Linked DNA regions of Homo sapiens: region 2 is reported to be linked to region 1. The links are microRNA targets in miRTarBase. Many come from high-throughput screens and were not tested one by one. Region 1 holds a microRNA gene; the other region holds the end of a gene's coding sequence.
The links. Region 1 holds the annotated microRNA hsa-miR-152-5p (AGGUUCUGUGAUACACUCCGACU, at 1,712-1,734, opposite strand). A microRNA usually pairs through its seed, bases 2 to 8, with sites in the 3' UTR of a target mRNA and lowers its output. Matches are read on the target gene's strand: a 7mer-m8 pairs with bases 2 to 8, a 7mer-A1 pairs with bases 2 to 7 and ends in A, and an 8mer does both.

Region 1 (3,000 bases):
AATCCTCCCACTTCAGCCTCCCGAGTAGGTGGGACTACAGGCACACACCACCACGCCCGGCTAATTTTCGTTTTTTTGTTTTTTGTTTTTGTTTTGTTTTGTTTTTTGTAGAGATGGGGTGTGCCATGTTGCCCAGGCTGGTCTGGCACTCCTGGGCTCAAGCAGTCCACCCGCCTCGGCCTCCCAAAGTACTGGGATTACAGGCATCAGCCACTGCGCCTGGCCTTACAACACATTTCTTTTCTTTTTCTTTTCTTTTTTTTTTTTTTTTTGAGACAGAGTTTCGCTCTTGTTGCCCAGGCTGGAGTGCAATGGTGTGATCTCGGCTCACTGCAACCTCTGCCTCCCAGGTTCAAGCAATTCTCCTGCCTCAGCCTCTCGAGTAGCTGGGATTACAGGCGCCCACCACCATGCCTGGCTAATTCTTTGTATTTTTAGTAGAGACAGGGTTTCACCATGTTGTCCAGGCTGGTTTCGAACTCCTGACCTCAAGTGATCTGCCCGCCTTGGCCTCCCAAAGTGCTGGGATTACAGGCATGAGCCATCACACCTGGCCTTATAATGCATTTCATAGCTAATGCAGATGCTATAGCTCCCCTACAATTAATTGTGTTGACAGCAGAAATTTATTTTTGGATTATTTTAGTTTGGTTCGCTCAGGCCATGTTTGCTAGGATAGATAACAGCTAATTGAATGGGGGTACAGTGAAAACCACCTTGAGCTTCATGTCAAAAAACCCGAGTTTGCCTGTGAAACCTGTGAAATGGGAGAAGTGAAAAAATTAAATAAGTAAATAAATAAAATTTGAGTTTGGATCTGTTAGGATATTAATACTTGTGACCTCAGGCAACTCACTTAGCTTCTCTACCCCTCATTTTCTTCATCTACGAAATTAAAGAGTTGGATTATACAGTTTCTAAAATCCCATCTGGTTCTAAATCCTTAGACTCCTTAGACTAAATCGTTAGTGTTTACCAAGCTGTAGAACAAAAGTGGAGGTTTAGAGACAAACCCCAAAGAACAAAAGAACTTGTGTGGGGGTTTGGGGACTAAGACTCCTGGGTCCCAGGCTCAACACTCCACTGACCCATTAGGCAGAACCTTCCCATGCCCAGGTCCAACTGGCCAGTAGCAGGATGATAAGGAAACATTTCAGGGAACATGAGTAGAAATAGAGGAGACCCCTCATTTCAGGGAGCAGCACCTTGACAAGGCAGGAGGATGAGAAGGACCTCTGGAGGGGTCTAAGCTGAGCTGCCCTGAGTCACAGAGATCACAGTGGAGTTTCTCCTGAGACAGGAGTGTCAGCTGAGTGGGAACTGTGTCCCTCATGGGTGGGGTCAGAGGTTACCTTGGCCAGCAGCCGGCGCCCGTCATTATCTAGGATGAAAACAGCCTTGATGGTGTAGAGGGAAGGTTCCTGCAACTGACACCGGAGAGGAGAGTTCCGTTTGGCCCCTGACTCGAGGTGGACACCCTGTGTCTATGGGATCTGCTGGCCCTAGGATACATCCTCAGGCCCCAGCAACCCCAGTCCTCAAGGTCCACAGCTGGTTCTGCCCAGCCCTGTGCCACATGGGCCAACCCAGGTGCCCACTCCACTCCCAGGCAGATGTTCCACTGCAGGCCCCGAGTGGGCGCTGTGCCCGTTGGGTGCAGAAGGTCCTTCCGGGCCCAAGTTCTGTCATGCACTGACTGCTCCAGAGCCCGAGTCGGAGTGTATCACAGAACCTGGGCCGGGGGGGACAGCGGGCCGAGCCTCCTTCTTCCAGCTGATCCCTGGCCGGGCTGGACCTGCGCTATCAGCGCGCCCCCAGGCCCTGGCCCGGGTAGACTCCAGAAGCATGCCCATCACCCACCGGTGATGGGAGCCGAGTCTGGGACGGACAGGCCACTCCTTACCCTCCCCGCGGAATCGCAACTCACCCGCCACCCCCACTCCAAACGGACCCAGAACTTCAGCCCCGCGCCGACGGACTCAGGACAGGCCTCCTCTCCGGTCGGCGCTGGGACGAACTTTTCCTCCCGGGTCCTGGGGCCAGTCAGGGGTGACACAAAGTTCCCAGCCGCCGGGCGCGCGAGTTCTGAGTTGGCTGCTCCCCCTAACCCTGCTCTGTCCCTGCCCAGCTCCCGCCGCCCGGGATCCCCGCGCCCGCCCGCTCCGTACCCGCAGCCCCGAGGGCTCCCCGGCTCGAGCAGGCGGCGCCGGGCCCCCGGCCTGGGCCGCCGCGGCCCCCTCCCCCGGGTGCGGACGTGGCCAGGCCTCGGGCCGCTGCATTCCGCTCGCCGCCTCGCACTGACAGCGCCGCCCGCCGCCTGCCCGCCGCCGCCGCCCCGCCTCCGCGCCGCCCCGCGGCCCCCTCTCGCGCGTGGCCTCCCTTTCCTCGGGGCCCCGTCCTCTTGCTCGTTCTCCCCCATCTCCCCTCCCGCCCTCACCCCACCTCTCCTTCCCCCACTTCTCCTCTCCCTCTCTCCTCCTTGGCTCCTTCCCGAGTCCCTTACATCCCCGAACTCTGCATCCTCAGGGTGCCCCAAGACCAGCCCTCGTCCTGCTTCCTGCCTGCTCTCCGGCCTGTGGCTTTGGTGTGCGCCAGTGTCTATAGGCTGTCCTGGGGCCAGCAGCAAACACAAGCAAAGCCCACTTTTGTCTGTTGACCTCTGGTAGGTACCATGAGGACAAATACGTCAGGTCACCCTTTAGATCTCAGGGACAGGGTCTATAAGCAAGAGCAAATGAGGACAGTTCTGGGGACACCCCTCTGTGAAGAGGCTTTCTCATTCCTCTCTCACTACTTGCAGAAGGCAACCATGGGCCCGGAGACACCTCCCCAGGCTCTCCTAAGTCACAGATATGGCACCATCAGAAGCAAGACAGACGCCCAGCAGCACAAATGCTCCACCAATGACATCGGGCTTTGCAGCATGTTTTGGTTTCTTTGGTCTAAGTCTAACTAAGACAAGCTCTCATTTCAGGGTACACTGGCAAGTGGGAAATTCAC
Region 2 (3,508 bases), not on the chromosome of region 1:
TGCTCAGCCAGGGGCTCCTTTTGGCCCTTCTCCTCTCCAGAGACCTGGTCAGGGGCTCCCCAGCCTGCCGCCTAACACAAGTCCCTTTCCTGGTCCGGACCCTGGCTTTCCTGGCCCTGGTGGTGAGGATGGGGGGAAGCCCTTGAATCCACCTGCTTCTACTGCTTTTCCCCAGGAGCCCCACTCAGGCTCCCCGGCTGCTGCTGTTAATGGGAACCAGCCCAGTTTCCCCCCGAACAGCAGTGGGCGGGGTGGGGGCACTCCAGATGCCAACAGCTTGGCACCCCCTGGCAAGGCAGGTGGGGGCTCCGGGCCCCAGCCTCCCCCAGGCTTGGTGTACCCATGTGGTGCCTGTCGGAGTGAGGTGAACGATGACCAGGATGCCATTCTGTGTGAGGCCTCCTGCCAGAAATGGTTCCACCGTGAGTGCACAGGCATGACTGAGAGCGCCTATGGGCTGCTGACCACTGAAGCTTCTGCCGTCTGGGCCTGCGATCTCTGCCTCAAGACCAAGGAGATCCAGTCTGTCTACATCCGTGAGGGCATGGGGCAGCTGGTGGCTGCTAACGATGGGTGACGCTGGTGAAGTGGCCCAGGGAAGTGCACATGTCTCTCCCTGCTCTTCCAGGGTGATTTTTTTGATGTTTGGCTCTTGGTCCTTGTTTCCACTGGCTTTCCATCCCCATGGGGCAGAAACAGTGGCTCCTGGGAGCAGAAAAGGAATTGAGGTGGGCAGGCAGAAGAGCCTGGATTGCTCACTGTTTTGGGAAACTTACATGTTGAGATCTACAGAGATCCAGGAAACCAAAGCCCTGCTGAGCAGAGCCATTTTGTGGCTATTTCTGGAGGCCCAGGAGTGTGGCTGCAAGAGAAAAGGGGCTGGAGGAAGATCCGGAGGGCAGGGGTGTTCCCTCTGCTGATGATGGATGCCCCTAACACCTGTGCCTAACACCCCTACTGAACCCCACAGCTCCAGCCTTAGTTTTTGGAGTCAAGTGTTAAAGGTTTCTGGCCAGAGGAATTGGGGTCTTGCCATCCCTGCAATAGCCCTTTTATGGGCTCTGGGAGACAGCTTTAGGGAATAAATGGGGATTTTCCCCTTTTTCTACCCACTCCTTTGCTTCCTCCAAGACTTACCCAACTCCTTCCCCCTCAGAGAACCAAATAGCCTGAGGAAGCAGGAGAGTTCCTGGTTATGGCAGTTTCTTGGTGATTTGGGGCTTCAAGACAGTAGGTGAGAGATGCTGTCAGGACGTATCTTCTTCATACCAAAGTCACTGGTCCTTTCTCAGCCTCTCTCGTGCTTTTCTCCTAATGACCATATTTTTGCCAAAAATTGGGATATGTTATCTGACAGACCAGAATATTTGAAGTTTGGGCTGTCCTGAAAGTCTGGACTTTGGTGGTACCCTCCTCCCCCAGCCCATCTGTTGCACATTATACTCCGTGTGTTCTTCAACTTTCGGCGCCCTTATTCCCCTGCCTTCCTGGCTTGATTGAAGGAAAGCTTGAAAAGGCGCAGAGCCCTATACCTCATTTCCTCCATGATAAAAGGATCCAAGTGAGGCCCTGTCACAGCCTGTGGGTAGGGGATGCGGCGGGATCCTCATTGCCATGGTACTCAAAGGTAGAAGAGCCTGGAGTTTGTTGCTTCTCTTTGCTATTCTTTCATATCCTCTTGGGCCTGGTGATTAATTAGCAATTCTCATTCCTCTCAGCCAAAGGCCTGCACTGGGCTTTATTTGTCTTTTTTTATTTTTTAAGCACTGCCTGCCAGAGATGGGCCTGGGGCCTGATGAGGACCTTAGCGCTGCTCGTTCTCCTTTTCTGTTCATGCACACATTCCTCCATGGGGTGGGGAAGGCAGGCATGGGGTGTGGCCCTCGGAGAAGTTAGGAGTCCCCCAGCTCAAGATACAGTGGCAAAGACCTAGTGGTCCCCTACCCCCACTTCTCTCAGTTCCTGGCATGAGGAGAGAAGACCCTGCTCTGGTGGAGCTGACAACCTTTGAGGCTGGGAGGAGAGCAGCCTCTGGGCATCGTTCCCAGTGTCCCTCACACTAAAACGGCGTAGATGGCAACCCCCCACCCCCACCCCGCTGCTCAACTCTTGTGTTTGTTGTTCTGTTTGCCCCATTTATCTGTTGCTGTTTTTGTGTTGTCTTCCCCTGCTCCGCATTTTGTAAAATGGCCCCTGGGGGAGTGTTTTTGCTGGATCTGCTCCCTCTCGCTCTCTCACTCCACTACTTTTTGGAACAAAGTGATGGCAGAATGCGGTGGTGGTGGGGGTCTTTTGTACTGTTGGATTAATAAAATGATTTTAAAATCCCAGACAAGGACTCCTTGCTGTTGCTGTGTGAAAAGGCTGGAATGAGCCGCTGTCACTGCTGGGTAGGGTGCTTAGGGGTTGAGGATATGTATGCTCCCCAGGGTCCCTGGGAGTGGGAATGGCAGATTTGGCCCCTGAGCTGACCCTGGTATAAGCTGCTGAGCCAAGGGAGGCCTGTGTTTCCCCGCCCATCCCCCTGTGTCTCCACTGTGAGAAACTGAGTTTCCTTTTTGAGCATATTCCTGGGCCAGGCCTGGAGCCAGGCGGATTTGGCACCACAGCCTCTGGAAGACAAGTGCTTGAGCTCTTCTGGGTTTAGCACCCCACCCACCTCCCAGTTGTTTGGGTTAGGGAGCAAGTGTCGCTCTAAGGGTGAGGGGAGGGGCTGCTTCTGTCCTAGCAAATTTCATTTTGGGATGTTTTTCAGATCGTTCCCGTCCCCCAACCGTTTTTTAAAGTAGCAATGGCATCTTTTAAGCAGTCTGTTTTGGAGCAGATTGGGGAGAATGGCAGGAGGGCTATTTCCACACCCTGGATTTGCGACCTGTCCCTCTCCCTTCCCCCATCTCACAGCTGTCTCTGTCTATCCTGGGGCCAACCTGGCCCCTTGTCTTCGTCATCTCAGAAGACGGCACCGTCTGCTTTTCTCTCAGTTTGTGGGGGTTCCCTCTAGAAACTGTTTAGACACTGGGAAAGAAGGGCAGGAAACTCAGGATTCGGTTAGCTGGGACCCCGGTCGCCCACCAGGAGGTAAGCCCAGGTTTAGGGCCGTGTCGCTAGACCTCCCTTCCCCTCCCCTGGCTCTCAATTCCTGCTCTTATTGGCCAAAAGTTTCCGCCCCCTTGGGGAAGTTGACTTTTCATTGGTCAGTTTCTGGTCACATGATTTTCTTCTCGGGCTGCAAACAAAGGGAAGCCTGCAACAAGTTAAGCTGAAGACCGAAGCAAGAGCTGGTTCAGGTAATGCCTTAGCTGGGAAGGGGTCCACAGATTCGCTTTGAAGGGGGTGGAATAAGGAAAAGGGAAGGCGGAACTAATCTAGAAGGAATGAGCTGCTTTTCATTTCTGGGCTGGGGGAGGAAGGCCAGGTGCCGACGCTAACACAACAGGAACTTGCTCTGGGTACCCCAGGCAAGTGGCCCTAGATCCTTTGCTTTAGCGGTTTGGAGGAGCAACTGTTA

Region 2: miRTarBase lists PYGO2 as a target of hsa-miR-152-5p. Seed matches in the 3' UTR shown: 7mer-A1 at 1,157-1,163.

What each region holds. Positions count from the first base shown.
Region 1 is chr17:48,035,499-48,038,498 of GRCh38, forward strand. It overlaps MIR152 (microRNA 152), which reads right to left and starts at 1,749; the gene lies at 1,663-1,749. COPZ2 (coat protein complex I subunit zeta 2) reads right to left here and starts at 2,299. Exons shown (of 9, transcript NM_016429.4): 1 at 2,169-2,299; 2 at 1,353-1,427. The coding sequence starts at 2,279.
Region 2 is chr1:154,955,848-154,959,355 of GRCh38, reverse strand. It overlaps PYGO2 (pygopus family PHD finger 2), which reads left to right. Exons shown (of 3, transcript NM_138300.4): 3 at 1-2,330. The coding sequence ends at 577. PBXIP1 (PBX homeobox interacting protein 1) reads left to right here and starts at 3,257. Exons shown (of 11, transcript NM_020524.4): 1 at 3,257-3,287. RefSeq lists an enhancer at 1-71.